Linked DNA regions of Homo sapiens. The gene in region 1 interacts genetically with each later gene. Each region holds a gene or a part of one and is shown in the gene's direction. Other genes may lie near its edges.

Region 1 (3,898 bases):
AGATTTATGTTAGAAGCATGTCTATGCAGCATATTATAGCATTAAATATGTATACAGATATCTAACTGAAATAAAAAGTGTTTTAATAATTAAAAGTTTAACATATGGGCATATGTGACATATAGTGATATAGCATGTCTCTTTAGTTTTGTTGTTTTTGTTGTTGATGGCTAACCACCCATGCTTGTCTTAAAAATTGATAAGGTACCACTGATGAAATTATGACCAGGTGGGCCCGAGTTAGTACCACATATAACAAGAGACCCTTGCCTGCAACATCATGGGAGGACATGAAGAAGGGATCCTTTGAGGGAACAAGCCAAAACCTACCAAAGCGTAAACAACTTGAAGCCAATAGGCTATCCCTCAAAAATGATGCACCCCAAGCAAAACATAAAAAGAACAAAAAGAAAAAAGAGTACTTAAATGAAGATGTGAATGGATTCATGGAATACCTAAGACAGAATTCACAGATGGTTCACAATGGGCAAATTATAGCAACAGACAGTGAGGAAGTAAGGGAAGAAATTGCAGTTGCTTTAAAGAAAGACAGTCGACGGGAAGGAAGAAGATTAAAAAGACAAGCGGCAAAGAAAAATGCAATGGTGAGAGCATCACTTCTACCATGTTATTTACTTTATTTAGCTGGAAACTATTCTTATATTCACACACATATATACCTTAGCCAGCTCTGGTTACCATTATGTCCCAGATTTATAGAGCATCGTTTTAAGGACTAGTACTTTTTTAGCACATATATGCTAGGCACATGATGTACTGGTTAATTATTACAACAACACAGCAAAGGTGATGGCATATATTCCCATATTATGGATGGCAAACACTGAAGTGCAGATAGATTAAATAACCTGTGGAAGCCACTTAGCTAGTAGCAGAGGTGACATTCAAACCCAGCCTGACTTCAAAACCTACGTTATAGACCAGATGTGGTGGCCCATGCCCGTGATCCCAGCACTTTAGGAAGCTGAGGCGGGAGGATCACTTGAGCCCAGGAATTAAAGACGAGCCAGGGCCACATAGGGAGACGCCATGTCTACCAAAAAAAAAAAAAAAAATTAGCCAGGTGTGGTGGTACACACCTGTGATCCCAGCTACTACTGCCAGCTGAGGCAGGAGGATTGGGCCTGGGAGGTCGAGGCTACAGTGAACCATGTGATCAACCGCTGCATTTCAGTCTGGGTGACAAAACGAGAGTTCGTCCTCCAAAAAAACCAAAACCTATCCTCACCTTCCAATAGCCCCTTTTTCAAATTAGCATTGAGAAAATGTCAAAATTATGAAGAAGATGAAGTAGAACAGGTTAAATGTGTGTGGGTCCCTATTACTTGGAAAGGATGTTCTTTATCTATGAAATACTGAAGCACAGGAAAGAGATACATAGGAGTCATACTAGTTAGAGCAGAGTAATAGCAGAATTGAAAGTCCTTGAGACTCCCTAGTCATTGCTTCCTCCCTCCCCCATATTACATTCAGAAGAATGCTGGGGGCAGCAGGTTTCTTTCTCTAATGCCTAGCCCTAGATTTTAAAGTATGTCAGGCAAAGGGGATGAAATACTTGGTATAATTATTTCCCTTCTCTAAGTGAGTTTCCCAAGCCTCCTAGTACACCACTTCATAAGAATGAGGACTTGTTGCTAGTTATTATACTTTTATTTTTTATTAGTATTACTATATGTAGAGCACTGTTTGCACCATTGCAGGCTTAAAATGTTAACAGCCTCTATAAATGTGTCTTTTGGCTGTTTGCAAGATTAGTCTATGCATTGTTATATTTAAAGATAGTTATTTAGAGATAATACTGATGAAACATTCCTTATGGATAAATTTGAATAGAAAGGATAACATTTCTGTTGGTATCAGGATAGAGTTTTGTGTAAGTTAACGATTTTTAAATATTTTAAGTCATTTTAGTTTAGTTGACATAGGCGGTATGGTGAATCACATACCATTTGAAAACATTTACTGTTATGACCGCTTAAGAAAAGCATTATGTTTGTAATTAAGTGGGGAAGGATATTGTTTTTTAAAAAGGGGAGTGCTATATAAATAGTATATGGCTTGTTATGACCTGTTGTTAAATTTACTTCCTTGGTATTTTTTTAATACCTTATACTAAGCATCGGTCCTTAAATGCTAATAAAATGATATGCTATAGAAATTTACAATCAGTGCTTCACAATCCCATCTACATTAAACTTAAGGACCATTCAAAAATGTTGTATTAGGTGATGATTAGGTTTTAAAAGAGAAGGCAGTGAACTAAGGCAGTAGTCTCAGCTTAGTAGAGACCACCTTGACTTCACCAAGAAGCCAAGACTTCTTATGGTGGTGATGCAGGTTTTAGCAGTAGCTTTTCCTGCATTTGTATAATAAATACAGCTTCTTTTTTTTGGACCAGCTCATTCTAAATGTACAAGTTACTGAAGAATTTAAAGGGACTCATTCTTTTTCAATATTTTATTAAGTAGGAAAAAAAGGACAGTTGCAAAATAAATGTTTTATTTTGCTGGTTGAATTTGCTTTTTAAAAAAACCTGTGCTTATTTTGAAAAAACATAATTAAATGACTATTTATTATCCAAGAAATATGTATATCTTTTTCCAGTTTAAATAAAATAGTTTAAATATCTGCCATCTTTGATTATGGTTGATGTTCTCATTTATTGCAGCAAAAAAATTCTTCAAATTTCTGTAAACAACTAACCATTGCTCAGTTTTATGTTGGAGCCAAATAATTCATCTTGGAATAAATTATTCCTTTAAAATGTATTGTGCATATATTCTAAAAATGAAACCTATTTCTGAATATTAAAGAATGTGTATGGCTGGGTGTGGTGGCTCATGCCTGTAATCCCAGCACTTTGGGAGGCTGAGGCAGGTGCATCAGGAGATCGAGACCATCCTGGCCAACATGATGAAATCCCATCTCTACTAAAAAATACCAAAATTAGCTGGGCGTGGTGGTGCGTGCTTGTAATCCCAGCTACTTGGGAGGCTGAGGCAGGAGAATCATTTGAACCTGGGAGACGGAGGTTGCAGTGAGCCGAGATCACGCCACTGCACTCCAGCCTGGTGACAGCGAGATTCTGTCTCAAAAAACAAAAAAGTATTTAGGGTAAAAAACAAGGATATACTTTTTGCTATGAAATATATCTTATGGCCAGGCGTGGTGGCTCATGCCTGTAATCCCAGCACTTTGGGAGGCCGAGGCGGGTGGATCACCTGAGGTCAGGAGTTCGAGACCAGCCTGGCCAACATGGTGAAACCCCGTCTCCACTAAAAGTACAAAAATTAGCCAGGTGGTGGTACACACCTGTAATCCCAGCTACTTGGGAGGCTGAGGCAGGAGAATCACTTGAACCCAGGAGGCAAAGTTTTCAGTGAGCTGAGATTGGGCCACTGCACTCCAGCCTGGGTGATGGAGTAAGACTCCGTCTCAAAAAAAAAAAAAAAAAAAAAAAAAAAAATCTATCTATCTATCTATCTATCTATCTATCTATCTTATGGTTTGAATCATAATTTGAATGGAAATGTCTGACCCAAATTCATTCAATTATGTGAACTTTAAAAGAAATATTAATTTTTTAAAATTTTGAGTACATAATTATATACAAATACAAATTTTGAGTGACAGTTTTTATAGCCACTGTCCATTTCCTATAGAAAATGCCATTTTTCTACTGCAGACATTCCAGTTAATAAAATGAATAGTCCATATTTGCTCAATTCATTTAAGCAATTGCCGTCTACAAAGCCACATATATAACATTGTTCCTGAGATTTATGGATTTATTGATTGAGGTTTTCAAAAGCAATGAAACCCTCTGATGGAAAGGATATCTCGTTGTTTAGGAACGTATGAAAGCTTTTTTCTACAA
Region 2 (4,723 bases), on another chromosome or scaffold:
GCTGTAGTGCAATGGCACAGTCTTGGCCCACTGCAACCTCCGCCTCTTGGGTTCAAGCGATTCCTGTGCTTCAGTCTCCCGAGTACCTGGGATTACAAGCACCCACCACCACACCTGGCTGATTTTTGTATTTTTAGTAGAGATGGAGTTTCACCACCCGTTGGCCATGCTGGTCCTGAACTCCTGACCTCAAGTGATTCACCCGCCTCAGCCTCCCAAAGTGCTGGGTGCTGGCATTACAGGCGTGAGCCACCGCACCCAGCCTTTTTTTTTTTTTTGACCGAGTTTCACTCTTGTCACCCAGGCTGGAGTGCAATGGCACCACCTCAGCTCACCGCAATCTCTGCCTCTCGGGTTCAAGCCATTCTCCTGCCTCAGCCTCCCGAGTAGCTGGGATTACAGGTGCCCACCACCAGGCCTGGCTACTTTTTGTATTTTTAGTAGAGATGGGGTTTCACCACGTTGGCCAGGCTGTCCTGAACTCCTGACCTCAGGTGATCCACCCCCTCAGCCTCCCAAAGTGCTGGGATCACAGGCATGAGACACTGCGCCCGGCCCACACCCAGCCTTTATTTCCATTTTGAAATTTTGAGGTATGTTCTTAGAGGGATAGGGTAATGCCCTACAGGCAATAAAATTAAAGCTTTTCTGTTTAGTGGTTTCACGTGCGACTTAGTTATTTCCTTGATAGAGAAGTGAATATTTAGTAAAGAGATGAAAGGGGGATGTATAGATTACTGGAGAGAAACCAGTGTTCTGTGCCGAGTCAGTTGGCTTACTTAGAGACAGGAAGCATTAATGTACCTTAAGCCTAGCTGTGATTGTTTCTGATGGGCTGTAGGTCTCCCTTCTCTCACTGGCTTTTATTATTGGTTCACCCAAAGGTTTCCAAAATGCCAGCATTCCTTCGCTCTGCCCTTCAGATTTTGTTTTCTGAAGATTCAACAAAGCTCTTTGTAGCATCAAATCAAGGAGCTCTGCATATTGTTCAGCTGTCAGGAGGAAGCTTCAAGCACCTGCATGCTTTCCAGCCTCAGTCAGGTGGGAATCTGGTAACTGGCCATGGGGAGACTTGTCGTGTCTAAGATGTAACTTTTTTGCTTTTAAGCCTCCATGTCGGGGGTTCCCTCATGTTCCTCCTACCCTGCAGATACACTCACTCACATGTTTGCTGTTTCAAGTAGGAGGAGATAGCTGGCAGATGAAGACTCTCGATGAGATCTGCAATGTTCTTCACACCTACTCTTTTCTCACTGGGTTTTTGATTCCTTATTTGGGGCCAGAGAAATTTCATCATCCTTAGTTTGTTAGCAGAACAAGAAGAAAGTTAAAGTCATTTGCAATCCTGACACCCAGAAATAGCTACCATTAATATTTTGGTATTTTCTAATATGTATTTGTATATAAGTATTTTGTGGGCATGTTGCCTTTTTTGGTTGTTTGTTCATAAAAAGGTACAATCATAGATGGCTGCCACCTCGACCTCTTGGGCTCAAGTTATCTTCCCATCTCAGCATCCTGAGTAGCTGGGACTATAGACACTCACCACTATGCCCAGCTAATTTTTTCATTTTTTTTGTAGAGACGGGGTCTCATTATGTTGACAAAGTTGGTCTTGAACTCCTGGGGTCAAGTGATCCTCCCATCCTGCCCTCCCAGCTGAGATTATAGGCATGAGCCACTGTGCCTGGCCCAAAAGTATTCTTATACATACAGTTTAATTACCTGTGTTCATATAATGTTCCTGAGAATTTTTCTGTTTTCATTGAGAATGTGAGTATTAATGAATGAGTGTGGCTATGTAGCTAGCTATGGCTAACTGTTAAGGACTTGGACTCAGTTTCCAGATTAAGCTGGTAGTTGTTTTGATACTTCCTATGGGCCTTTCACCTCTCCCTTGTCCTGGATTTTAGCTGCTGCTTCACTGTCATTTACACTCCCATCAGCCTGGAAAGTCAACTCTTTTTTTTTTTTTTTTTTTTTTTTTTTTTTGAGATGGCCTCACTCTGTTGCCGAGGCTGGAGTGCAGTGGTGCGATCATGGCTCACTGCAGCCTCACCCTCCCCAGGCTCAGAAAATCCTTCCACCTCAGCCTCCCAAGTACACAGGAGCATACCACCACACCCAGCTAAGTTTTGTATTTTTGTAGAGACAGGGTTTCACCATGTTGCCCATCCTGGTCTTAAACTCCTGGGCTGAAGCAATCCTCCTGCCTCAGCCTCCCAAAGTGCTAGGATTACAGGTGTGAGTCACCATGCCTAGTGAAAGTCAACTCTTTTATCTTCAACTCTCACTGTTCATAAGCTGATCCAGAAGCCTACAGGAGAAGAAACCCACAAGTTAGGGGTCAGATAAATCAAACTATTTATTATCTATATATGTTTTTATTACAAAACTTAGGCTATTTATCTTATATCTAGCTCTCCTTGAGATTCGACTCTACATTATGTATATGACTTTATTTTTTCCACTTCTCTCATCTCACTTCCCCTTGTAGTCAAAATGGTTTCTTCACAGCTCTCAAACCTGCATATTCTACTCCTCGTCACTTAGCTTGCACTGTTCCCCATCCTTTTTTCCTCATCCCCACCCATCCTTTGGCAGCTGGGTTATGCTTGTTATAAAGCCATGTTATCGTTTGGGGGCGTTACATGCAGCACGCATTTTGGCATAGAGCATCACTGTCCAATTTTTATCCCACACTAGTTGTCGTGTTGCCAGATTGGTTTAAAGTCTCTAGATGACAAAGATGGCTCAGACGTGCCCATCCTCCCTTAGTGCTAAATACACAGCAGGCATCCAATAAATTAAAGATATGCTTCAAGTCTATTGAACTTGCTGTTTGTCCGTAACTTTTTTTTTTATTATTAATTTATTTATTTTTGAGATAGAATTTCAAAAGACAGAGTTTCTTGTGCCCAGGCTGGAGTGCATTGGTGCCATCTCGGCTCACTGCAACCTTTGCCTCCCAGGTTCAAGTGATTCTCCTGCCTCAGCCTCCCTAGTAGCTGGGATTACAGGCACCCACAACCACGCCCAGCTATTTTTTTTTTGTACTCTTAGTAGAGATGGGGTTTCACCATCTTGGCCAGGCTGGTCTTGAACTCCTGACCTCAGGTAATCCACCTACCTCTGCCTCCCAAAGTGCTGGGATTACAGGTGTGAGCTACCACGCCTGGCCTGTCCATAATTTTGGCTTAAAAAAAATTTAGGGGCCGGGCACAGTGGCTCACACCTCCCAGCACTTTTGGAGGCCGAGGTGGGCAGATCATAAGGTCAAGAGATCGAGACCATGCTGACCAAAATGGTGAAACCCCATCTCTACTAAATATACAAAAATTAGCTGGGTGTGGTGGTGCACGCCTGTAGTCCCAGCTACTTGGGAGGCTGAGGCAGGAGAATGGCTTGAACCCGAGAGGCAGAGGTTGCAGTGAGCCGAGATTGCACCACTGCACTCCAGCCTGACAACAGAGTGAGACTCCGTCTAAAAAAAGAAAAAAGAAAGAGGCCAGGCACGGTGGCTCACGCCTGTAATCCCAGCACTTTGGGAGGCCAAGGTGGGCGGATCATCTGAGGTCAGGAGTTCAAGACCAGCCCAGCCAACATGGTGAAACCCCATCTCTACTAAAAATACAAAAATTAGCCAGGCATGGTGGTGGGTGCCTGTAATCCCAGCTAGTCAGGAGGCTGAGGCGGGTGAATCACTTGAATTTGGGAGTTGGAGGTTGGAGTGAGCGGATCCGCCACTGCACTCCAGCCCGAGTGACAGAGCTAGACTCCATCTCAAAAAAAAAAAAACAAAAAACAGAAAAAAAACCATTTGGTAGGAAAGGAGTTTGAAACAATTAAAGTATATATTTTAGTGGCAGATGCTGCCGTCATTCTCTATTCCTGTAGTAAGCAGTGTCTTAGGCCTGAGGAAGTAATAACTTCTGTTTTATCTCTCTGGACCTTCTTTACAGGCGGGATGGTTAAATAAGTAGATGAAAAAAGTAGAAACATTAACATCTAGAAGTAATTTGCACAGTGATCAGCAAATTATCCTGGCAGTGATTTAAAACTCTAATGGTCTCCTTGGCTTTTGCCATCATCTCCAGGGCAGGTCTGGCTGTGGACACTGTGTGAATTCAGAGATGTAACTGTTTTGTCCTCACAGGAACAGTGGAGGCCATGTGTCTTTTGGCAGTCAGTCCAGATGGGAATTGGCTAGCTGCATCAGGTACCAGTGCTGGAGTCCATGTCTACAACGTAAAACAGCTAAAGGTGAGCATAGGGTTTCATGGCAGCAGTTTGAATCATTGTACAGGAGCCAGTTCACCCTGCAGTTACAAGATTCAAGGCAGATTGGCATGACCTGGAAATTTATTAGACTTTTTTCTTTTTATTTTCTTTTCTTTTCTTTTTTTTTTTTTTTTGAGACAAAGTCTTACTCTGTCACCCAGGCTAGAGTGCAGTGGCGCGATCTCGGCTCACTGCAACCTCAGCCTCCCGGGTTCAAATGATTCTCCTGTCTCAGCCTCCTGAGTAGCTGGGATTACAGGTGTGTGCCTCCACACCTGGCTAATTTTTGTATTTTAATAGAGACAGGGTTTCACCGTGTTGCTCAGGCTGACCTTGAACTCCTGAGCTCAGGCAATCCGCCCACCTCGGCCTCCCAAAGTGCTAGGATTACAGGCATGAGCCACCGCGCCTGGCCAGACTTTTTTCTTTTTAACTAATAATT
Region 3 (4,723 bases), on another chromosome or scaffold:
CAGCCTCTCAAGTAGCTGGGACTACAGGTGTGTGCCACCACACCCAGCTAATTTTTTTGTAGTTTTAGTAGAGATGGGGTTTCACCCTGTTAGCCAGGATGGTCTCGAGCTCCTGACCTCATGATCCGCCTGTCTCGGCCTCCCCAAGTGCTGGGATTATAGGCATGAGCCACTGCACCCGGCTTCCCTGTCTGTCGTAATGCGTCATAATCATGATTCTGGTTCATTCTTTCCTACATTTATGTCCTGATGACAAAGTACACTCCATTCCTTAAGTGTGTGCTCTTCTCTCATGTTTTCTCATAAACAAAGTTCATCGTGAAATCCACACCCATTGACCCCCACATCCTTTCTATGTGGTTGCCAGTTGAGACATTTCTTTGTTGTTCTCTTTTTTTTTTTTTTTTTTTGGTGGGGGGACGAAATCTCACTCTTGTCACCAGGCTGGAGTGCAACGGTGTGATCTCGGCTCACTGCAACCTCTGCCTCCCGGGTTCAAGCGATTCTTCTGCCTCAGCCTCCTGAGTAGCTGGGATTACAGGCACACACTGCCATGCCCAGCTAATTTTTGTATTTTTAGTAGAGATGGGGTTTCACCATGTTGGCCAGGATGATCTTGATCTCCTGACCTCGTGATCCGCCCACCTTGGCCTCTCATGTAATTCATGCCTGGGATTACAGGCATGAGCCACCGCGACTGGCCTTTTTGTCATTCTCTTAATCTTATCAAATTGGGTCAGTGCTTATGGTGCGACAAGGATCTGGGAAATTACTCCTCTATGTAGCTGGTGGAAGAGAGAAAAATCTACTTACGGTAGTGCTTCTTCAGTCTTCCTAGACATAAGAGAATGGTGTTTTCTTCTCTCTACCCTTTAGAAGCCTGCTGCTCTAGGTTTCACCACAATGTCCTTGGCTCAGAAAATTGTGTTGAGATAATTGAATATGACTTTAGAATTCACATTGATCTGAGCTTTTCGTTTTACAAACGAGGAAACTGATTTATAACATTGGGCTTGAAGATATTAGATATAATTTTAATTTTGAGCAGCTTTATAAATATTCTATTCAGGTATTACAAAATATTTCCTTTTTCCCTAAAAAGTCCGTCTTTTGTGTTTATATGTATATAAATATATTTATTTATTTTTGAGACAGGGTCTTGATCTGTCCTCCAGGCTGGAGTACAGTGGCACAATCCTAGCTCACTATAGCCTTGAACTCCTGGGCTCAGGTGATCCTCCTGCCTCAGCCTTCCCAGTGTTGGGATTCACCAGATGTGAACCAAGGTGCCCAGCCCTACTTATTTATTTTAGTGGGGAATTAAAGCCTTAATGAACCTTGAACTTGAGGAACCAGTTTTATTTAAACAGTTAATTTCCATGAGTTTTGAGCTAAAGTCAGAGTAGACTTAACAGCAATTTGTTTTAGAACCTATAATACCAAAACTCACAGCAATTTTGTTGTTTGCCAGTGTATTCTAAGCTTTTCGAAGAAAAAGAAGCATGCATATTAATTGCTTGGTAGGGGTTATGCTGGAAGAACTTTGGATTTGATTCACCACTTGTAACTAAAATCATAGTATTGCAATTATTACTTTCCAGGCCAAAGATTGAGAGCATTAAAATCTGGGCATGGACATAACCAGCTAGATATGCCTCAATACCTGAAGGGATAAATTAAAGTCAACTATAAACTGTAAGCTTTTCACTTAAGCATCCATTAGCTTTAGTCTAGTGCTTAGCTGTGGAAATGAAGACTGGGGGGAACTGTGCCTAGGGGAAGGGTGGAGGTGAAGGGAGGTTATGTGTTAATAGAACTTTTTTCATTTCAGTTTAAAAACAAGCGATTTGGTTTATTTCCAAATTTGGCTGAGAGTCCTGGCTGCTAAGAGCTGTGCCTTCAACATCTCTTTGATTATTATGTATTTGATTAAAAGTGGGGTCACTATGGTTTGCATCTACTTGGCTATCAGTATCCTAAAGGGAGTGTATGCCTCTTTCTCTTCTCTTTCCTTTAATGGGTTAGACAGGTTGGTCTTTTTTTTGCGTCCCCAGGGATGGATTGATCTTAAAACAGGCACATTTTGCAGTACTTAGTTCAAAGAACACCATATGTTTTAAGTTATTTATTGTTTAGAAATTTTTACATTTCAGCATAGTACGGTTTTGGCTGTCTTTGTTCTCTTTCTTCTTCAGTTGCTTATTACCTTTTTCTAAGGCTCACCCTACTTAGCAGAGATCCAGGGCTTTTGATTGTAAAAGAGGCTAAAAGCTTTGAAATTTAGAGAATCCATTTATATGAAGTATATGATTTTTACTCTAATTATAGATTAAACATCATAATACATATATTATGCTGTGATGCTCTCATATAAGCCTTTCAAATTATCCCTTTTAAAAATAGTAACTACATTTTTTGTCTATAAATCATTGGTATTTATGTAGCTAAAGCATAAAAGACCATGAACATTTTCTTGATGGAATTCAATTATTTCTCGGTTACTGTAGTGGAATATTTATTTTAAAAGGCAGCATTATAAATTAACTTGATGCACATACTACCATCGCTACCACTCCTACCTTCCGAATCTGTAGATAGTAACATTTGTTGTATTTTTCAAAGATTGACTTGTAACTCATTTTAATTAATCGGATCCTTACTAGACTAGTTGAAATGTCCCAGATAATGATAATCATTAAAGTCTTAAAGAAGTATAGAAGTATGTTAATATGGTTTCTTTAAAACCTTTCGTTTGCCATTTTTCTTGCCTACAGACTAATTTCTTTCAGGTTTGGGGCATGTATTCATTTGCATGACAGTGTTTTGGATATATGAAATTAAAACTCATTTCATGGACTGCTCTAAAGTATATTGGGGCCAATGTGATTGGTTTCTGGAAATTCTTGGAGATTATTGAAAACGGTGGTTAAGCAGAGCTAATATTCCATGTTCATACCCTGATATACTTCTACATTTTGCAAAGATGGTATTTTGGGCAGCAGCAACCTATGCTAAAGGGTTATTGTCCTCTGGCAGTAAGTTAGCAGGCCTTTTGTACTATACAGCTGGTTAATGGAATCAATAACTCGTTTGATACTTGAATTGAGTAAAAAAATTGTAATAACAGCTTTATCGTGATACAATTCACATACCATACAGTTTACCTATTTAAAATGTACAAATCAATGGTTTTTAGTGTATTTACAGAACTGTGCAGTCTATTTTAGAACAATTTCCTCACTCCAAGAAGAAACCCCATATTCATTAGCAGTCGTTTTCCATTTCCCCACAACTCGTCCTCCTCACACCAGCCCTAGGCAACCACTACTAATCTACTTCTAACTCTATTGATTGTCCTGTTGTGAACATTTTATGTAAACAGATTTATATAATATGTAGTCTTTTGTGTCTGCTTTCTTTCACTTAGGATAATGCTGTGAAGTTTGTAGCATATATCAATACTTCAGTACTTTTTATTGCCAAGATTTGTTTTTTAAGATTATTTTATCATTTTCTTTCCCTTGACTCCATTTTTTCTCTTTTCATTGTGAAATCAATTCTAAGGTCTCCTGTCATAATTATTATGATTTCAAGGAGTGAACCAGTATATTTTTGTGATCTACAAGCAATCATCTGTATGATCTAGAGCATTTCACAGTTGATCTACATGTTAGAAGAGCTTTTTGGACTTTAAAAAATGTTTTTAGAAAGTGTGATGTTAGCTATTGCCAGTGGCAAGCCCAGCTGAACCAGGTACATCATCATGACCACAGAGTAGTCCATTTCAATATAGTTTGTATCATTAACATTTTTTAACATCTAAAAAAGTTTAGGTCATTTCTATGCTTTCATTAGTGATTCTTCACTAGGAAGGAACCTAGTGAAGTGCCAGTATGTTATCAGAAATAAAATTCCCAGTCTATCCATTGCTTATATATTTGTAAACACCAAAATGCATGAAAGATGAAGTTCTGGTATCAGTTACAGGGTTGACATAGCTTGATCAAGAAAATGTACATGTGCTATGTTAATCTTCTTTCTTTTTGTTTGTTATTTTTGAATTTTTTTTTTTTTTTATTTCAGGACCCTTCAAAAAATGATACATGCAAAAGGTTAGTATCTCCTTAACAGCTTTCCATACGTTCAAGGTAATGTCTGGCAAGAGACTCTTCCATAAGTATATGTATGTAACATAACTTATGAGTGCAGTTTGACAACTAATTCTTTTTTGGCCCAAATCATTGCAAATTCAGTTGTTCCTTGACATTAGAAAAATTAACTTTTACAGTTTCAGCCATTTTGAATAATCTAAAAGTTTCATGCCTTGAGTCATTTTTTAATCTTATTGTGACATAAATTGGAATCACACTCAGTAAGAGGCCAGGATGCATGGACAGGTAGCTACTATTGGGTCAGCCTTTAGTCCCGAAGTTCAACCCAGCTACATGATTCTACTTAAAACTTAATCGCATTTACTTCTCACAACCACTCTGTAAGGTAAGTGCTATTATTACATATTGCAGGAGAAAAAAATACTACGGTCATATTTAGGAATTTGGGTTTTCTCAGGTTTATTTACAATATATTCCTTGGCATTAATATTAGTAATTCATTAGTATTAGCTCTGAAAGTTATAAATTGCCTTACCTTAAGTGCCTCTATCTAAAATGACTGTGGAATCCTTGGCTTGTACAGTATCTTTGTGGAGATTATATAGAGCTAG
Region 4 (4,723 bases), on another chromosome or scaffold:
CGGAAGGCCTTTTGGGTGCATGCCCACTAACTAAAAAAGAAGCCACATCAGTAACATTATGACTTGATAAAATTTTGTCAAAAATGGAAATGACCTAACATAATTGATTCAATAAACTATGGTCCATCAGAACAGTGGAATATTATGTAGCAATTTTAAGTGTTTGTCATGGCAAATGCAAACATCATATAAGTAATAAAATGAAAATGTTTTAAAGTACACTCTGAGCCAGGCACAGTGGCTCATGCCTATAATCCCAGCACTTTGGGAGGCTGAGGTGGGCAGATCACCTGAGCTCAGGAGTTCGAGACCAGCCTGGGCAACATGGCAAAACCCTGTCTCTATTTAAATTATTTAAAAAATAAAGTACACTGTGATGGCAACTGTGTGAAAACATAAACATTTGTTTATTAATTGATCCAATAATTTAAGCATGTGCTATATTTAATAATCAGGATATTCAGTACTAACTGAAACAGAAACAGCTTCTGACCTAATAGAGTGTTAGGAAAAGGTAGATAACCTTATTCCAAGACAATAGGGTTTAACTTTGTAGTGGTCTCATGTTCATCGTGAGGTTTTATTTTATTTTATTTTATTTTATTTATTTTTTTGAGATGGAGTTTTGCTCTTGTTGCCCAGTCTGGAGTGCAGTGGCACAATCTTGGCTCACTGCAACCTCTGTCTCTTGGATTCAAGCAATTCTCCTGCCTCAGCCTCCCAAGTAGCTGGGATTACAGGTGCCTGCCACCACACCCAGCTAATTTTTGTATTTTTAGTAGAGACGGGGTTTCACCATATTTCCAGGCTAGTCTCGAACTCCTGACCTCAGGTGATTCATCCTAAGGATTTAATGAAAGCTACTTATCCCTAGGGGGAAAATGCACCTATGCAAAGTAATATACAAGGTGATATGTACAAACAAAGGTTATTTTGTTAAGGAGGTTATATTGAGCTGAATGCTTCTCCCAAATAGTCCTGCGTCCTGCTTTTTCTGTCTGGCAGCATGAGTAGATCTGTTTCTTCTTTGACTGGACAACCCTTCAAATATGTGAAATATGTAATCATGTCTCTTTACATGGGATAAATATCCTTCATTCTATTAAGTGTTCTTGGTGCATTTTTTCCCCCATACTTATTTCTGTCTTTATCATCCTCTTTTGGACACACCATTGTCTGTCAGTGTCCACTAAAGTCTTGTCCAAACTAAACACATCTTGGCTGGGCACAGTGGCTCACACTTGTAATCCCAGCACTTTGGGAAGCCAAAGCAGAAGAATTGCTTGAGGCCAGGAGTTTGAGACCAGCCTGGGCAACATAGTGAGACAACTATCTCTACAAAAAAAATTTAAAAATTATCAGGCATGGTGGCACATGCCTGTAGTCCCAGCTACTCAAGAGGCTGAGGTGGCAGAATTATTTGAGCCCGAGATTCAGGCTGCAATGAACTGTAATCACACCTCTGCACTCCAACTTGGGCGACAGAGCAAGACCCTGTCTCAAAAAATGTAATAATAAGGAAAAACAACATGTCCCACATATTGTGTAGCCACTTAGGCACTATGTTTGTCAGGGCTGCCATAACAGACTAGGTGGATTAAACAACAGAAATGTATTTATTTTCTCAGTCTTGAAGGCTGAAAGTCAAAGAACAAGGTGGCAGCAAGGTTGGTCTCTTTTTGTTTGTTTGTTTGTTTTTTGAGGCAGAGTTTCGCTCTTGTTGCCCAGGCTAGAGTGCAATGACGCAATCTCTGCTCACTGCAGCCTCCGCCTCCCAGGCTCGAGTGATTCTCCTGCCTCAGCCTCTGGGTAGCTGGGATTACAGGTGTGCACCACCACATCCGGCTAATTTTTTTTTTTTTTGTATTTTTAGTAGAGGTGGGGTTTTGCCATGTTGGCCAGGCTGGTCTTGAACTCCTGACTTCATGTGATCGCCTGCCTCGGCCTCCCAAAGTGCTGGGATTACAGGCGTGAACCACCGCACCCGGCCTAAGGTTGGTCTCTTCTGAGGCTTTTCTCCTTGGCTTGCATAGGGCCACCTTCTCCCTGTTTTCTCACGTGGTCTTTCCTCTGTGTGTGGGAGTCCCTGGTGTCTCTTTGTGAATCCAAATTTCCTCTTATAAGGACACTAGTAAGATTGGATTACGGCTCACCCTAATGGCCTCAATTTAAATTAATCACTTCTTTAAAGGCCCTGTCTCCAAATACAGTCACATTCTGAGGTACTGGAGTTTAAGGTTTTAACATACAAATTTGGGGGCAGAGATTCTCCCCATAACTGGCTCCGTATCTTTGGGTTGCGGTAATGGGAATATGGAAGGACTTAACTTCTTTTTTTTTACTGTTCAGTGTAAAAATTAATACACAGGAATAAATCAGTTTTTTTTTTTTTCTTTTAGCCAAAATCTGAAGATGAAGAAGGCTGGAAGAAATTTTGTCTGGGTGAAAAGTTATGTGCTGACGGGGCTGTTGGACCAGCCACAAATGAAAGTCCTGGAATAGATTATGTACAAGTAAGGGCTGTGTGGATAAACAGAACAAAAAGCATTTTAATTTTGGTGCACCACTTAATATAAGGGGTCAGCAAACTCTACCCTGGGCCAAGTCCAGTTCATGGCCTTTTTTATATCCATGAGCTAAGGATTGTTTTTAGGTTTTGAAAGAGTAAAAAAGAAACAAATAATATGTGGCTGAGACTTTATGTGGCCTGCAAAGCCTAAAATATTTGCTGTCTGACTCTTGATAGAAAATGTTTGCCAACCCAGACTTAGTTTATTAGCTCTTCAACCTAACAAAACAGCTTAGTTTCTGAAACAATTTACTGTGACTTTTTTTAGTTTGGCTTCATATCCCTTATGTTTGGCTTGGTAATCATTTTATGAGTTGGATAAGATTCATAGTTTTTTTAAATGATGAGGCATCAGGCAAACAGTGTTATGAGTAGCCAGGGAAAAAATGGAAATCGACACAATTAGATGCTTTAAAATGCATAATCACATCTATCACTTCATGGGCCTGTAAAAAATAAATCACATATTCTAAAGATGAAATGTTGAGGATATCTTTAAAATTCATGTGGCTGTAATCATAAGTTATGTAGACAACTCCTTGTCCTTCAGGATTTACCTGCCCCCAAGTTTGCAGGTGTTCCTTGAGAATCCAGTGCATGCCTCTGCATTAGCGCTTACTCCCTATAGCATGTAGTTCTTTTCAGTTCAACAGGTATTTATTATTTGCTATATGGTGCCACATTGTGTTTTTCACATTTAAAACTAATTTTTCCTAAAAATGTAAAAAGCCCCAAGAATCAATAAAAAGACCAAGAATCACCCCTCCCCTGCCCAAGAAAAAATAGCCAAAGGATATAGATACCTCACAGAAAGGAAATAAAATTATTCTTATATGACAAGATGCCAAAAATCACTTGTAATAGAAGTATAACATAACTATGCCAAGGTGCTATTTTTCAGGTAACATATTGGCCAAGAAAGTTTGATACACCATATTGACAAGAGCTGGGGAAACAAGCACTCTTAGACGTGGTACAGGAGTATAAATAGACTCAAATCTTAGGGAAGTTAATTTGGTACTCTTTCTATATAACCAATTGATCTTTTGGATGATATCCTTAACATATGCTACATTTCAAAAATAGCTATATATATATATATATATATATTTTTTTTTTTTTTTTTTTTTTTTTTTTTTGAGACAGGGTCTTCTTCCGTCATCCAGGCTGGAGTGCAGTAGTGCACTCATAGCTCATTACAGCTTCAACCTCCTGGGCTCAAGCAATCCTCCCACGTCAGCCTTCAACATACCAGGGGCAGCAGGCACCCACCACCACACCCAGCTAATTTTTAAATTTTTTGTAGCGATAAGTTTTTTAATTTTTTAAAAAAATTTTTTTGTAGAGAGAAGTTTTCACCATGTTGCAAGGTTGGCCTGAAACTCCTGGGCTCAGGCAATCCTCCTGCTGGGATTATAGGCATGAGCTATCATGGCTAGCCAAAAATGGTTTTTAATTTATAAAGAATTAAAACTTACTTATTTAGCTTATTTTCAGAGAATACATACAAGTAAAATACACCATGTTAAAAAAAACCCTTAAGGAAGTAAGCGTTTAATGTATATCCTCTTAAGTTTCTCACAAATCAGTGGTATTTTCATAATTAGCAATCACAGCCTCAGACTCCAAAGTAGACTTTTAAAAATTGAATCAAATTAGGTTTTAAAAATGTCATTCTAATTCAAGTGTCCTTAATTCTTGAAAATATTAGCTTTAGCTGAAGATTTTGAAATGGTGTATACAACATATTAATGTCATCTTATCAATGTTACAGTTTTATTGGATATACTTAATAAGTTAGTTTTTTCAAGTACTATCATGTAAAAAATTTTTAGTCTTTAACATTTTACTTACTAAAATCATACTTTATTTAAAAATTTACAAATTCAGACCAGGTGAGGTGGCTCATGCCTGTAATCACAGCACTTTGGGAGGCTCTGGCAGGTAGATCACTTGAGCTCAGGAGTTCCAGACCAACCTGGGCAACATGGCAAAACCTCATCTCTACCAAAAATACAAAAAAATTAGCTGGGCGTGTTGACATGCACCTGTGGTCCTAGCTACTCGTGAGGCTGAGGTGGGAGCATCACCTGAGCCCAGGAAGCAGAGGTTGCAGTGAGCCAAGATCGCGCCACTACACTCCAGCCTGGGTGA
Region 5 (4,723 bases), on another chromosome or scaffold:
CTCCTGGTCCCAGCATCTCTAAGACTCCCACGTGATGCTAGTGTCAAGGCTCTGTAGCGTGGTGACTGAGAGCTCAGGTATGGTTCGAATCTCTCTCTGCCATTCTGAGCTGTGTGACCTTAGGCAAGTGACTGTACCACTCTGAGCTTCATTTTCTCCATCTGGAAAATGGGGATGATGATAATGATAATAATTGGATTGTTGGTAGAATTAAATGAGTTAACACAAGCAAAGTGCTTTGAGCCGTGCCTGACACATATGTTAAGTGTTAGTATTATTTTCAGGTTTGGAAGCCACTGGCATCATTCATTTATTCAGTCCACCCTTGGCAGCTATTTAAGCAGTTTGCAGAGTTTTTTATTACCTAAAAATGGTGCAGTGGCCGGGCACGGTGGCTCATGCCTGTAATCCCAGCACTTTGGGAGGCCGAGACGGGCGGATCACGAAGTCAGGAGATCGAGACCATTCTGGCTAACACGGTGAAACTCTGTCTCTACTAAACAAAAAATGCAAAAACTTAGCCGGGCCTGGTGGTGGGCACCTGTAGTCCCAGCTACTCGGGAGGCTGAGTCAGGAGAATGGTGTGAACCCGGAAGGCGGAACTTGCAGTGAACCGAGATCACACCACACCACTGCACTGGGCGACAGAGCGAGACTCTGTCTCAAAAAAAAGAAAAAAAAAAGAACAACAGTGCAGCGGTGGCTGCCAATGGTGAATTTTGAGCTGGACCTTAATACCTTAATTACATTCATCAGTGACCCCACAAGGCCTCTGAGCCTGTCCCGATGAATAAAGGAGTTCCCCCCGCTGAGGCCCTGAGCGCAGCCGAGGCCCCAGCCCAGACAGTATGTATGTGTGTTTGCAGACCAGCGGCCAGTGACGAGGAGCTCACCAGGCTGAAGAGCAAGCGGGCCCGGGTGGCCCAGATGAAGAGGACCTGGGCAGGGCAGGGGGCTTCTCTGAAGCTCGGCGACCTCATGGTGCTGCTGGGTTTGTGCCCTGCCCGTTGGAGGGTGGCGGGAGGGTCACCCAGGTCTGGGATGGGTCAGAGAGAGAGCATGCCCCCTCTTCGTTCCCCAGGCGCCGTGGGAGCCTGTGAGTATGCCAGCTGCACACCCCAGTTTTGCGAAGCCAACGGGCTGCGGTACAAAGCCATGATGGAGATCCGGCGCCTGCGGGGCCAGCTGACCACCGCAGGTACGGCCCCGTGCCGGCACGCCGCTGCACCCGGCGGGCAACCTGACCTGGGCACTTGAAATGTTTAAAAAAGTGATCCATAGAGTCCACGTTTGCAAACTTGCTACGCACCAAAATGTATTTATAACCCTAAATCAATACTTGGGGAGCTTTTCCAGGAACAAGGGAATGTGCACATGAGCAGGGCACTAACAGATTCGAGCTGCCAGCCTGCACCCTCCCCCACCAGGTCGTCGCTCGGTTTCACCTTTTCCCTGGCGATACCCCCTGCCATTTTCCATCACCGCTGTGGCCTGGACCCCTCTTCCCTCCCACATGTCCCCCAGACCCTTCTCATGCAGAAGGATGAGGCCTTGCCCTGGACTCTACCTCAGCTCAGCAGCACAAATACTTCCTGCCACCAACACCCAGGGAAGCTTGAGAGGAAGGAAATGTCCTCCAACATATGGCAAGAGGACGATGCGTAGAGAGGGCAGCGTGGACACTGGGTCTCTTCTGGGCAGGCCACGTTCTTGCACCCAAGGCTAGTGGAGAATTTGCCTTCCATTTAAGCAGATCCCAAGGTTTGATGCCAGAATTGATGGCTCTCTTCCGGCCGATCCTTCTCCCAGCGCCAGGTGCATGGTGGTGGCCCTGTCACCATGCTCTGTGTCCTTCTGGCTGTGGCTTTCCAGAGCAGCCCCATTCCAGGTGCAGCAGCTTAGAATTGCAGTCAGCCTCCAGACAGTGCTGGTTACAGTGGCTTGGTGACATTAGACCTTTATTGTTGCAAGGAAGAGAAGTCACTTGAGTCAGCAGCCCAGGGCGTTTCTCTGCTGCCATCCTCCTGCCATTCGCTGTGCCTTCCATCCTAAGGTCACCTCTTGGGCTGAGGAGGTAGTTGGAGGCTTAGTCACCTCTGCCTTCCAGGCAAGAGAAGGGAAGGATGAGGCCAGGGCACCCGCCGGCTGTCCTGTTCCCGTATTGAACGTTCCCAGGAATTCCAGCCGCAACTTCCTTCTTCACATCATGGACCAGAACTGAGTCTGAGGCCACCTGGGTGTTAGGGGAGGGCTGTCTCCTCGAAGAATGCTCTGCTGCCCAGGCAGGATGTGGGGCTTTGTCCCAAGGGAGAAGGAGGGAATGGGGGGGCGGCTGCAATCCTGCCTGCTGGGGGCTTTGGGTCCTGCTGGTGGCCTCTGGGGAGGGGTTGAGACAAGCAGGTGGCTGAGGCTAGAGCACTGAGCATGGTTGGGACTTTCTAGGAGGTCAGGGCAGAGCTGGCTCCGGGCCTTGCCACCACCGACCTCACTCTTGGTTCTCCCCTCAGTCAATGCCGTGTGCCCCGAGGCTGAGCTCTTCGTGGATCCCAAGATGCAGCCGCCCACCGAGAGCCAGGTGACCTACCTGCGACAGATCGTGACGGCAGGCCTGGGGGACCACTTGGCCCGCAGGGTCCAGAGCGAGGAGATGCTGGAGGACAAGTGGAGGAACGCCTACAAGGTGCGGCCCCCACCGCCTCCCTGCCCGGGTAGCTTGGGGCACCTGGTGAGGGGCAGGCGGGCTGGGCCCTCAGGGTCTGGGGAGGCTTGTTCCCTCTCAGCTGTGGGTCCCCACTGAGGAACAAGTGGGGCTTGCAGTAGAATCACATCTTCCTTGGTTAGTTTCTCCCAACTTTTTTTTTTTAATAACAGTTTAGTGGAGATAAAATTCACACAGCATTTAAACTCTTTTGGGGTTTTTTGTGTTTTCTAGAAACAAGGTCTCGCTCTGTTGCCCAGGATAGAGTGCAGTGGCACAATCATAGCTCACTGCAGCCTCGAATTCCCAGGCACAAATAACCTTCTCGCCACAGCCTCCTGAGTAGTTGGGACTGCAGGGGGCACACCACCACCTCCGACTAATTTTGTTGTTGTTGTTTTCTTTTTTGAGACAGAGCCTCACTCTGTTGCCCAGATTAGAGTATAGTGGTGCGAACTCAGCTCACTGCAACCTCCACCTCCTGGGTTCCAGCAATTTTCCTGCCTCAGCCTCCCAAATAGCTAGGATTACAGGTGTGTGCCACCATGCCCAGCTAATTTTTGTATTTTTAGTAGAGAAGGGGTTTCACCATTTTGGCCAGGCTGGTCTTGAACTCCTGGCCTCAAGTGATCTGCCCACCTCGGCCTCCCAAAACGCTGGGCTTACAAGCAGTGTTACCCAGGCTAGTCTTGAACTCCTGGCCTCTAGGAATCCTTCCACCTTGGCCTCCCAAAGTGTTAGGATGACAAGTGTGACCCACTGCATCTGGCCTGCATTTAAACCCATTTAAAGTGTTCAATTCAGTGGGTTTTAGTATTTTCACAGAGTTTTGCAACCATTATCATAGTTAACTTTAGAACATTTTTATTACCCAACAAAGAAACCCCACATATGTAAGCTGTGAGTCCCCAGTTCCCCGTCACCCCCGTTTTCATGATCCTGCTTTCCATCTGTGGATCTGCCTGTTCTGGACATTTGGCATGAGTGGAATCTTAACATACATGGCTTTTCATGTCTGGCCTCTTGCACTTAGTGTGATGCTTTCAAGCCCCATCCACGCCATGGCAGGTGTCGGTGCTTCCTTTTTTTTTTTTTTTTGAGAAGGAGTTTTGCTCTTATTGCCCAAGCCGGAGTGCAATGGCGTGATCTCAGCTCACTGCAACCTCCACCTCCCGGGTTCAAGCAATTCTCCTGCCTCAGCCTCCCAAGTAGCTGGGATTACAGGTGTGTGCCACCATGCCCAGTTAATTTTTTGTATTTTTAGTAGAAATGGGGTTTCACCAACATGGTGAAACCAGCCAGGCTGGTCTCGAACTCTTGACCTCAGATGATCCACCCTCCTCGGCCTCCCAGAGTGTTGGGATTACAGGCGTGAGCCATTGCACCCGGCACTTCCTTCCTTTTCACGGCTGGATCAGACTCCAGCGTGTGGATGGGCCGCATTTCCCGGCAGATGGAGCACTCTCCCACTTTTGCGGCTGGAGTGGATAATCAGATTCTTCTCCTGGGTTGAAAGTATGCGGAGCCCCTGGGCATGGGTTCTTCCCTGACCACATCACTCTCCATTCTCTGCAGACCCCTCTCCTCGACGACCCTGTCTTCATCCACCCCAGCTCCGTCCTTTTCAAAGAGCTCCCCGAGTTTGTGGTCTACCAGGAAATCGTGGAGACCACTAAGATGTACATGAAAGGTGCCGAGGCCTGCGGACAGCCCCTTGTCCCCCGATGGTGACGCTAATGGGGGTGTGGCTGGGACCCTGGGGCAGAGGCATGGCAGCCCCTCCCACGGAGGGTGCCGCTGTAACCCCAGCTTCCTCCCCCGGCCCCCAGGCGTCTCTAGCGTGGAGGTCCAGTGGATCCCGGCCCTGCTGCCCTCTTACTGCCAGTTTGACAAGCCCCTGGAGGAACCAGCCCCTACATACTGCCCCGAGCGGGGGCGGGTGCTGTGTCACCGGGCCAGCGTGTTCTGTGAGTTGGGGCAGTGTCCTGGGCAACCTGAGCCTCCTGCAGCCGTGGGCTTCTCGGA

The links.
Region 2: changes in ZCCHC9 (region 1) and UTP4 together harm fitness more than expected from each alone (negative genetic interaction), as found in Homo sapiens cells (one large-scale study listed by BioGRID).
Region 3: changes in ZCCHC9 (region 1) and CYB5B together harm fitness more than expected from each alone (negative genetic interaction), as found in Homo sapiens cells (one large-scale study listed by BioGRID).
Region 4: changes in ZCCHC9 (region 1) and GEMIN2 together harm fitness less than expected from each alone (positive genetic interaction), as found in Homo sapiens cells (one large-scale study listed by BioGRID).
Region 5: changes in ZCCHC9 (region 1) and DHX37 together harm fitness more than expected from each alone (negative genetic interaction), as found in Homo sapiens cells (one large-scale study listed by BioGRID).

What each region holds. Positions count from the first base shown.
Region 1 is NC_000005.10:81,304,537-81,308,434, forward strand, and holds part of ZCCHC9 (zinc finger CCHC domain-containing protein 9), read left to right. Parts: intron 1-204; 5' UTR 205-221; coding exon 222-605; intron 606-3,898. UniProt on the Homo sapiens protein: May down-regulate transcription mediated by NF-kappa-B and the serum response element.
Region 2 is NC_000016.10:69,156,200-69,160,922, forward strand, and holds part of UTP4 (U3 small nucleolar RNA-associated protein 4 homolog), read left to right. Parts: intron 1-884; coding exon 885-1,041; intron 1,042-4,156; coding exon 4,157-4,263; intron 4,264-4,723. UniProt on the Homo sapiens protein: Ribosome biogenesis factor. Involved in nucleolar processing of pre-18S ribosomal RNA. Part of the small subunit (SSU) processome, first precursor of the small eukaryotic ribosomal subunit.
Region 3 is NC_000016.10:69,455,010-69,459,732, forward strand, and holds part of CYB5B (cytochrome b5 type B), read left to right. Parts: intron 1-4,083; coding exon 4,084-4,112; intron 4,113-4,723. UniProt on the Homo sapiens protein: Cytochrome b5 is a membrane-bound hemoprotein functioning as an electron carrier for several membrane-bound oxygenases.
Region 4 is NC_000014.9:39,120,031-39,124,753, forward strand, and holds part of GEMIN2 (gem-associated protein 2), read left to right. Parts: intron 1-2,399; coding exon 2,400-2,513; intron 2,514-4,723. UniProt on the Homo sapiens protein: The SMN complex catalyzes the assembly of small nuclear ribonucleoproteins (snRNPs), the building blocks of the spliceosome, and thereby plays an important role in the splicing of cellular pre-mRNAs.
Region 5 is NC_000012.12:124,950,355-124,955,077, reverse strand, and holds part of DHX37 (probable ATP-dependent RNA helicase DHX37), read left to right. Parts: intron 1-866; coding exon 867-991; intron 992-1,081; coding exon 1,082-1,198; intron 1,199-2,107; coding exon of another isoform or gene 2,108-2,127; exon of another isoform or gene 2,128-2,264; intron 2,265-2,507; coding exon 2,508-2,680; intron 2,681-4,273; coding exon 4,274-4,388; coding exon of another isoform or gene 4,389-4,425; intron 4,426-4,527; coding exon 4,528-4,665; intron 4,666-4,723. UniProt on the Homo sapiens protein: ATP-binding RNA helicase that plays a role in maturation of the small ribosomal subunit in ribosome biogenesis. Required for the release of the U3 snoRNP from pre-ribosomal particles.